Linked DNA regions of Homo sapiens: region 1 is linked to region 2. A link means that fine-mapping ties the variant in region 2 to the expression of a gene that starts in the linked region. Tissue or cell type: spleen. Region 2 holds a variant in brackets; the other region holds the start of a gene. All regions are shown on one strand. Distances are from middle to middle.

Evidence for each region.
Region 1: VANGL1 starts here. The variant in region 2 is fine-mapped to the expression of VANGL1 in spleen (GTEx, PIP 0.94).

Annotation. Positions count from the first base shown.
Region 1 is chr1:115,639,044-115,644,415 of GRCh38, reverse strand. VANGL1 (VANGL planar cell polarity protein 1) reads right to left here and starts at 2,446. Exons shown (of 8, transcript NM_138959.3): 1 at 2,330-2,446. RefSeq lists an enhancer at 1,831-2,589 and a silencer at 1,725-2,714.
Region 2 is chr1:115,592,847-115,598,218 of GRCh38, reverse strand. No RefSeq gene overlaps it. Among named protein-coding and RNA genes, the nearest start is that of VANGL1, 46 kb to the left of the region's middle. RefSeq lists an enhancer at 2,057-2,351. The variant G/A (reference allele first, on the strand shown) is at 3,068.

The sequences.
Region 1 (5,372 bases), 46 kb before region 2:
CGAGACCCTAACCAGCTAGCTGATTTTACAGAGATGATGGTAATAGTCTAACAGTTTCTAGTTGTCAAGTGTTTACTATGTGTTAGATGCTGTTTTAAGTCACTTACATGTAATATCTCACTTAATCCGCATAACAAGTGTTTAAGAAAAATAAGACATTAATATCATGTTAGTTAGGGAAACCAGACTGCCACAGGAGCCAGGGCTTAAACGTTGAGAGTCTAACTCCAGAACCTGTGTTCTTAGCTACAGAAAATTGACAGCACTGTAGCAATTACTAGAATTGTTTGTTTATATAGAGGAGTATAAGCAACAATCACAAATTGTCCCAAACCACATATAACCCCACTAAGAATTTTGCAATTTCAACTTCTACTCACAGGTTCAGTGTTCCAAGCATCGTGGGGCACTCAGGAGAAAAGAAATGGATCTAAAATAGTTCTAACTCCCAATGAGCTCACAGCCCCAATGTGGAGACCTCCAATTAAAACACAATGTGACAAGGGCCCATCCCACCAAAATAGCTGATAAGGCCTAGGGTAGCAAGCACAGTGTGTGTATATAAGTGTGTTAAGGGGATGATGAAGGGGAGGATGCCTTCTTCATTCAACACATTTATCCTTCAAACAAAGGGTGACATGGAATTGTTGCTTGGTAAAGAAACTTTAAATTTCCTTTATGGTTTTGTCCTGTTGCTTAATACATAAGACAATAAAAATGTACTGCTTGGCAAGCAGTCCTTACAAATATATCACTCTCAAAATTCTTCTCCCATTTTACTTACAAATTAAGTTGCAAGCAAGCCTCACTGCCAACATTGTTAATAGTGAAATTCCACACTGAGTGTTTTCACTAATTATACTGAGAGACATCAACGTTTGGGAATGTTTAATGCTCATGGATAGGTGAAGCGTGTTATTTCTTTGAACTGGAAAAAGAAACAGTTTCCTCCCACAAATCAAAGCCCCAACTATATCACATTGATTTAATTCAACCCTAAAAACTCTATAATTAGTGGTTACAGAAAATGGCTAATTACCTCTCCCTGTATTCAGACAATTTCTGCCATCTCACTTGCAGAGCCTGGGAGCTGTGTACTCAACCCACCCACTGACGGGAGAATGCTAATTAGCATTGTTGACTGGTGATACAAGTTATAATATTTTTCAGCAGCCCCGTAAAATTTATAAACATGTCAGTGAAAATGCCAGATTCTTTTACAGTTTGTTAGCTTTTGGACTAAGTGTCTAAGAATACATTCATTTCTAACCAAAGCCAGGTCAAGAGTTTTAACAAAATGCATGGGCCATCTACACAATCATCATCATAAGGCGCTCTAACACTTCCTAAGGAGAATCTAAGAGAGCTCACAACACCTTCGCAGCGTGGGCATTAGACCTGGTTTGGAGAAGTGAAAACTGAGCAACAGATTCCTCAGCTCCAAGTCTCATCTGCTCATCACACAGCAGCCAGGCCGCGGCTCCGCCCCACTGCTGCCGCCACCACGGACGCGTTTAAATTTTTATAAAGCTTCACACTTCTCTAGGCGCGATGCTTGGGGCAGTTCAAAGACTGCAGAAGGAAATGAGGTCCTGCCGGTGGCGAAGGCTGCCCCGGCGCGGTGAGATTTCCTCCAGCAGGGACACCTTGGGCAGAGACCCGCCAGGCGCCTCTGCTCCACCCCGGCGTTTTTGAAAGTAAACTCCTACCTGCCTGTTGCGCTCTCCGAGGCGCAACCGGACTCGCCCCCCAGGCCTCCAGGGCCGGCTCAATTTTTTGTGAGCGAGGTGTGCACACAGACCAGCTCTGTCCCGGTTCCTGGCGAAGGGCCAGGCGGCGCCCGGGTCGAGCCCCGCCAGGGGTGGGAACCCCGGTGCGCGCCCGGCTCCCGCCCTGCACGGCTGCTGCAGCCGCCCGGTGCCTCCAACGCTCGGCCACTCCCTGCCGGCCTGCCCGCCGCCCCGGCACGCGCACCGAAGGGGCGCACTCCAAAGGCCAGCCCGGGGAGAAAGGGACGTCCGAGGTGTGAGCAGGGAACCCCGGGACCCCAAGGAGTGGGGTGCGGCGGAGATCGCACGGCAGGGCCAGGAGGGGCGCAACGCATGGGGAGAAGAGTGGAGTCAGAGGAAGCACTACCCGGAGCGCTCCGGAGGAGGGGAGGGAGCCCCCGGCCCGAGGCGGGAGCCGGCCACCCGGGGTCGAAGTCCGGCGGGGCGAATGCGGGAGGAGGGCGCAGGGGCACGCGGGGTCCGAGGTGGGGGCGTCTCCCAGCCAACGGTCTGCCCCGGGGACCGCCGCCGCGCAGCGCTCGGCCTCTCGCGGGACTCACCTCCGCGCCGGCCGCCCGAGCTCCGCGGCCCGCGGTCTCGGCTCACAGCGGCCCCGGCTCTGCGGCCTGCGCTGGGCTCCTGGAGAGGCAGAGCCCCGCCGCCGCCGCCGCTGCACTGCTGCTTTCCGCTTCCTGTCCCGGCGCCGCCCCGCAGCCCGAGCCCAGCCCTGCGAGCCCGGCGCGGCCGCGAGCCAAGAACAGCTAGCGCTGCCGGCCCCGCCGCGGGGCCGGCCCACCTGCAGCGGAGGGCGGGGCTCGGCCGGCGTCCCCCTCACCTCGTCACCGCCCCGACCCCACACACCCGGGACACACACGAAGGCGTGCGCGGTCACACTCTTACACACGGACCAGGGAATGACACCTCCCACACTCATTCACCCTCATACACACACTCACCCTACACAGACGTGCACAGCCCAGTAACCCACTCTCTTCTGGGCAGACACACACACTATAAACACATGGCCCAGGGATTGATCTCCGACACCGCCCCCTCCCTCCCCCACATACTTGGAATCTCAAGCTCACACACACACACACACACACACAATCATGCACAAAATCCGAGCCCATTTGCCCTCACGAGTGCCCCCATCCACATATTCACACGGCTCAGGGACTAACCCCCCAACCCCACTCAACACACACTCATATACACACTTTCCAAGAACTGACCGACAAATATCCATATACACCATATCTCAACCCATATACACACACTTAAACTCACATGTAGCCCTGGAAATGACCCCACAAATAGACACACACACACACACACACACACACACACACACACCCCCTACAAGCCACCACAGCAAGCCTCTCCCCTCCTCCTCCCTTATCAGAGCAGGCACTGCCGCCAGCCTAGTCTCCTAGAAACTGCTAGATGAGCACATCTCTGCAGGCAGGTAGCTGAAGCTTCAGTGCTGATTCCAACCAGGTACTGTTTCCTTTCTGAGCCTTTGTTTACCTGTCTGAAAAGTGGTGAGGATGCTGCTGTCCACCTTGCAGGATTGTGGTGAGGATTACAAAACAGTTGGCAACGATTTTCATGAATATTTGCACTTTTCTTAGTTGTCTTGTGTTGGTAGCATTAGGGTTCCTTACTGATCATCTCCAATCTAGCTGGGACCCAAAGCTGCTTACGTGGCAGGATTTTCCAGTGGAAGCAGTGTATAATGAAGTGCTGAATTTCCTAAGAGTTGTCTACAGGAGTATTGCGGGCATTTGGGGTGGGGAAATGCAGGCCCACCCTGACTAGCCTTAATCAGGGAACCTTGGCTCCAAGAACCCCTCACTCCCTTGATCACCTCTTCCTCATCCCTTCTAGACTCCATTTTCTCTCGCATATGTCACATTTCCTTGAGAAGACACCCATATGTTCAATGTGGCTGATTTTCACCACTCCTAGTCCCCAGGCTCTGCTGCCCCACTCAGTGGCCTAGACCATCTTCCTCCCCCACCCCCAGCCTCCCAGTAGGCTCCAGAGAGCAGATGTTGCTGACTCAGGCAGCCAGGTTCCTATGGGTAAAGCCAATGGTCTATTCACCCAAATCAGCACTCAGGGTCAGAAATGTAGAACATTATAAAAACATGTCTCTCTCATCTCTAAAATGTAGAACTTTCAAAGTTCAAACAGGCCAGGGATTTCCAATTCTAGTCATGTACCTGAATAGCTCCAATTAACACAGAGATCTTCAATGAGTTTTCAGAAAGTAATTCTAATTCACTTAGGTTCTTATGTCTAGCCACCTTACCAGATGATGTTTTGTGGGAAAGAGGGGTAGTTGCAAATAACCTATTTTAAAATAATAAATTCACCTTTAAATGCCATGTAGAGGCCGGGCTTGGTGGCTGAAGCTTGTAATCCCAACACTTTGGGAGGCTGAGATGGGCAGATCACTTGGGGTCATGCGTTCAAGACCAGCCTGGCCAACATGGCGAAACCCCATCTCTACTAAAAATAAAAAAATTAGCCAGGCGTGGTGGCAGGCACCTGTAATCCCAGCTACTCAGGAGGCTGAGGCAGGAGAATTGCTTGAACCTAGGAGGCAGATGTTGCAGTGAGCTGATATCATGCCACTGCACTCCAGCCTGGGCAAAACGAGACTCCATCTCAATTAAAAAAAAAAAAAAAAAAACATGCCGGGGGACCTGGGCAAGATGGCTGAATAGGAACAGCTCCAGTATGCAGCTCCCAGCAAGATCAATGCAGAAGGCAGGTGATTTCTGCATTTCCGACTGAGGTACCCAGCTTATCTCATTGGGACTGGTTAGACAGTGGGTGCAGCCTACAGAGGGCGAGCTGAAGCAGGGTGGGGCGTCACCTCACCCAGGGAGCGCAAGGGATTGGGGAACTCCCTCCCCTAGCCAAGGGAAACCATGAGGGACTGTGCTGTGAGGAACAGTACATTCCAGCCCAGATACTATGCTTTTCCCATGGTCTTCACAAACAACAGACCAGGAAAGTCCCTTGGGTGCCTATGCCACCAGAGCCCTGGGTTTCAAGCACAAAACTGGGCGGCCATTTGGGCAGACACTGAGATACCTGCAGAAGGTTTCTTTCATACCTCAGTGGCTCCTGGAATGCCAGTGAGACGTAACTGCTCACTCCCCTGGAATGGGGGCTGAAGCCAGGAAGCCAAGTGGTCTAGCTCAGGGGATTCCACCCCCATGGAGCCCAACAAGCTAAGATCCACTGGCTTGAAATTCTTGCTGCCAGCACAGCAGTCTGAAGTCGACCTGGGATGCTGGAGCTTGTTGAGGGGAGGGGCATCCGCCATTACTGAGGCTTGAGTAGATGATTTTCCCCTGACAGTGTAAAGAAAGCCACTGGGAAGTTTGAACCGAGCAGAGCCCACTGCAGCTCCACAAAGCCACTGTAGCCAGACTTTCTCTCTAGATTCCTCCACTCTGGGCAGGGCATATCTCAGAGAAAGGCAGCAGATCCAGTCAGGGGCTTGTAGATAAAACTCCCATCTCCCTGGGATAGAGCACCTGGGGAAAGGGGCAGCTGTGGGTGCAGCTTCAGCAGACTTAAATG
Region 2 (5,372 bases):
TCAATGGTCTCACCATGTTTTCTACCATCCTTAATCAGCTGGCTTGATAGAACAGTGGAATGGCCTTTTGAAGATTCAGTTGCAGTGCCAGCTAGGTGGCAATACCTTTCAGGGTTAGGGCAAGGTTTTCCACAAAGCTATATATGCTCTGAATCAGCATCTAGTACATGGTGCTCTTTTTCTCATAGCCAGGATTTATAGGTTCAGGAATCAAGGGATGAAAATGGGAGTGACACTACTCAGTACTACCCTTAATGACCCACTAGCAAAATGTTTGCTTCCTGTTCCTATGGCCTTATGCTCAGGTGGCTAAGAGATGTTTGTTCCAAAGGGAGGAATGCTTCACCAAGAGACACAACAATGGTTCTATTGAACTGGAAGTTAAGAATGACACTCAGACACGTTGCGCTCCTCCAAGTCAACAGCCCAAGAAGGAAGTTACAGTGTCAGCTGGGATGATCAATCTGGACACCAAGGGGAAATTGGACTACTGCTCCACAGTGAAGGTAAAGAGGAGTATTCTGGAATATAGTAGATCCCTTAGGATATCTCTTAGTATTATCATGCTCTGTGATGAAGGTCAATGGAAAAGCAAAACAACGCAATTCAGACAAGATTATTAATGGCTCAAACCCTTCAGACAAAAGGTTTATATCACCCCACCAGGTAAAGAACCACAAACAGCTGAGGTGCTTGCTGAAGATAAGGGAAATATGTAATGGGTAGTGGAAGAAGGTAACAAGATATGTATACGTGTGCATATGCGTGTGTGTGTGTGTGTGTGTGTGTGTGTGTGTGTTGAATATCTTTGTTTTCCTCCTCTTTTCCCCTTATCATGTAACATAAGATGTATTAACTTTATGTCATAGTATTTAAGTATTGCTAATTTTATATGATAGTATTTAAGTTTTGGTATGTCACAGAGAAGAGTGAACATAGCTCAAAGACATTGCTTCTTCCTCTGTGGAAGGGTTTATTGTGTTTTCTGTTGTACAAAGGACAGTTGTATCAGTGTAGGTGAAATTATGACCATGTTACCATCTTTGTTTGGAGATTAGCATGGTTCAAGTACATGCATATGCATGCCAAGTTGAGAAGGAGTAGACTTGTGCTGGTTAATTTTTTGTGTCAGCTTGACTTGGCCATGGGGTCAAGTTGGTCAAACATTATCTCTGGGACTGTCTGTGAAGGTGTTTTTGGAAGAGATTAACATTTGAATCAGTAGACTGAATAAAGCAAATTGCGCTCCCTAATTGTGAGTGGCCTTCATCCAATGAGTTGAAGGCCTGATTAGTACAAAATGTCTGCCCCTCCTTTAAGAGGGAAATCCTCCTGCCTGACTGCCTTGAGCCAGGACACAAACTTTCCCTGCCTTTATATTTGCACTGAAATATCAGTTCTTCTTGGGTCTCAAGCCTTCTGGCTTTTGGATGAGAACTCAACCATCAGCTCTCCTGGGTCTCCATCTTGTTGACTGCAGATCCTGGGACCCCTCAGCCTCCATCATTACATGAGCCCATTCTTTCTAATAAATCTCTTTCCAAATATATGTACATCCTGTTTGTCTGGAGAACCCTGACTAATACAAGGGTTATTTGGCGGTTTGGGATGATGTAAAGAGATTAAAAATTCAGAGCTGGCCATGATAATTCTGTGCGTCTGTTCTGGAGACAGAAAGCAACCAGTCAAAAAATAGCAGCTGAAACTCAAGAGACTTTGCCTAAAGATACAGATTTAGGAGTGTTCAGTACAGTTCTCAAAACTCAGTGAGTGCACATAATGATCTGTGCAAAGCAGACACTTAAGAGGCATGGTCCTTCAAGAGACTGGTTCTCAAAATGTAGTCCAGAGACTTGCCTTACAAATTCCTGAGATACTAGTTAGGAAAACACATTATTAGATTCCTCCCCAGACAAACTAAGTTAAAACCTCAGGGTCTGGAGCCCAGGAATTTTTGTGGGGGATCTCACCATGTCACCCAGGGTGGTCTTGAACTCCTGGGTTCAAACGATCCTCCTGTTTCGGCCTCCCAAAGTACTGAGATTACAGCCATGAGTCACTGCGCCCGGCCAGGAGTCCTCATTTTTGACAAGCATCCTAGGTGACCGTCACACACACCAAAGCCTGAGGAAGTGTGCACTGCAAGAAGGCAAACTGCTTTCCTGAGAGAGCTGTCTGACAGGGTGCAGGAGGGCCTCGATCACTAGGTGGCGCCAGACGCACATTTACAGTAATTTTCCAGTGCTGTGGCTTCCTCAGCCAGCATAGAAAAGGAAGCCTCATGGGGCTCCTGGGATTTCTGCCAGCACCTCCTCAAGGGGAGTGAAATACAGAGCTAGCAGGCTGACTAAACTGTAGTCACTGGCACTATCAGTCACCCCCACAATGGTCTGCCTGGAAGAGGCTCCAGTTATTGGCAGAGCGTAAATAAGGAGAATTCTCTGCAAAGCCACCCATTTTGAGCCACAGTGATCCAGCAGGCAGTCTTGGGAAGTAATGGTGTGGATTTCCCAAGACCGAGTCAGGGGCAGAGCTGTAAGAGGCCAGGGGTCCCCCCACATCCCAGACCACCACCGTTCCCAGTCAGGGTATCTTCAGAGAGGACAGAAGCAATCCCTTCTTCTGTCCTAGGAGACCTGATGGTGCTGCAATGGTGCCTAACACTGGCTCTGCCTGCCGCCTGTCTCCAGGCTCAAACAGTCTCCCAGCCTCTCACAGAACTAGAAGCTGACCCTTCCTCCACCCGCTGCTTTCCCCCTTGGCCCCCAGCGCCTCACACTTGAGCTGTTTCCACAGCAACGACTTGCATGCACCTCCGAGTCTCCATGACCTCCTACCAATCTGCACATATCCATGCTGGAGCTTCAAGCACTACTGTTGAGAAGTCGCACCCCTTGCCTGGCATTGAGGACCTGCATCTTCTGGCCCTTTGGTATCAGACTATTGGAGCTCCTTAGGCAGAGAAGTGCTGATGGAGGGGGACTGGGGAGTGAAGAGGAAGACCTGGGGGCCACTGGGCCTCTGGACAAGCACAAAGGCTTCTACTGGATTCTCTGGACCAGAGATA[G/A]CCACAGGGTCTGAGAGGAAGCAAGTCAGCTCTGTGCCTGGTTAGACTGGCGAGCCCACCCAGCTGCCCCCAACCCATCCGCCTAACACAAAGCCCAAGGGGCATCACTTCTGCTTTTCTCGACACAGAGATTCTCTAGGCCCTGAGACAATCCTTATGGTTATTCTGGCTACCCTCTCTTTCCTCAGGTCCCTATGCCTCAGTCTTGCTCTTCCCATATTCAGGGCCCCAGAAAGCAACCCATAGTCCAGGTAGGGACAGCAGCACTCCTGGGGCCCAGGGCAGGGTGTGGGAATCCATCCTGCAATAACGGGACTTGGTTGCGTTCCCAGAGTCAAGGAAACGACCACTTACAAACTAACAGGAGACAGGCCTGGAGTGGTTCCAAGGCTGGGGAAGGCTGTGGAAGGAAGGACTGGGGTCCTTGAGTCCTCACACCCAGATCCAGGGGCACCCACCTTGTATTGCTACAGCCAGTTCCCTTCTTCTCACATTCACAGCCTGCTCTCCTCAGACATACCACATGTTCCCTCATGTCCATCGCCACCTGGAGGGCCACATCAGACAGCCAGGTGTGCAGGCGCAGGGCTAGGAGGGCCCGAGTCTCCCCTGCCCAGAAAGCCTGAAATGTGAGCCCTATACTTTCTCCCAATGTGATTATACAGTTATACATTTTTTGTCAAAAACATTAATTAATAATTTATAAATTGCCCTTTTTATGATCCCGTTATAGCTTTTATCCATTTCTTTAAAATGTAGCAGAAGCTTCAACAGACAGAAGAGAACTGGGCCATTCTCAAATCGTGAAAGGCCCTGCTGTAGAGGATCCCAAAGAATCCAACATGGAGCAGGTGCTTGGGTAGAAGAGTCTTAGCTTGTAGCTCCTCCTCTCCCCTCCCCTCCTCTCCTCGCTAAGGAAACCTTTTGGGTTAAGAGAAACCCACACAATAAATTCTGGTCTGGCCTGGACTTGGAGCAGCCCAGCTTTCCCTTCACTTTCTCTAGGTGGGTGGGCCAGCTCTTCTCTGACACACAAGGAGGCTGTGGTCCACCCAAGAGGGGCCAGGTCTCACAGCCCAGCTTTCCTGGGCTCAGCAGCAGCTGCCCCGCCAAAATCCACACACAGAAAGCACTGGGGTCACTGCAGAGCCTTCTCCAGGAATAAACTCCTAGGCTGGGCTCAGTCACCTGGGGCACCCAGGTCCTCAGGGTCCCCAAAACACATACACCTAGCTGGGGAAAAATCACAAATCATGGGCCCTGACTTCTGGAGGTAAAAGCTTGGCAAGTAGAAGCAGTCACTGGGGATTCAAAATGTGTCAAAGGGCAGCAACCAGGTCAGGCAGCTCTTTCACTTACTAACATCATAGGCCCTGGGGATCCCAGGGAGGAAGTGATGATAATAATATAATAGCTACCATTTACTTTGTGCCAGTAACAGAGCTAAATGTTTTACAGACATTATCTACTTAAATCCTAACAACCAAACTAGAATTTGGATACTGTTTTTCTCACTCCATAGATAAGGAAAATTGAGGGCTAAGAGAGATTAGGTAAACTTGCTGGCTCACCCCAGAGAAAGGGATGGAGGATTCCAGCCCAGATCTGCCTCCCAAGCTTGTAGCACTAGGGTTTCATAACCTTATTTTTGGGAGAAGTGGGACAATCTCTCTGCCAGCAAGCAGATCGTGAGTGGGTCAATGCTACGAGGCTAAGAGGTGTAGCATTGTCAAGAGCCTAAACTTGACCTACCTTATTCCTGGTTTGAAAATCTGATCCCTCTTGAAATCTCAATTCAAATGCTATCTCTTCTCTTAGCACAAGCCATCTCTTCATTAATTCATTCATCTATCACTTAGCCATTCATTCATTACTTGGTCATTCATTCAGTCATCCTATTTTCAGCTCCTGTGTTGTGTCATGTGCTGCTCTTTGCCTTCAGCCTCTCAAGATAACTAAAAACATGCAAGTGCATTGAGAATCTCAGAGGGAGAGGTCTTCTGGATAGAGAAGGAATGAGGGAAGGCTTCCCCGAGGAGGCATTTGAGCTGGGTCTGGAAGGATGTTTTGGTTTGGTGTGGAAATCCTTCTGATGGAGAGGTTTAAGTAGAGATTTTAGGCAGAGGAAACAGCATACTACTGTTGCAGAACTTTCTCCTTAGTTCAGCTAAAACTGGGCTCTTGTCACATGACCAGGAAAGATTAGGCTTGCGAACACAACAGAAGGGTGAGGAAAATGGAATTTATAGGGCAAAAAGGAAAAAGAAAAAATAACTCTCAGCAAAGTGACAGAGTTCTGCTAGCA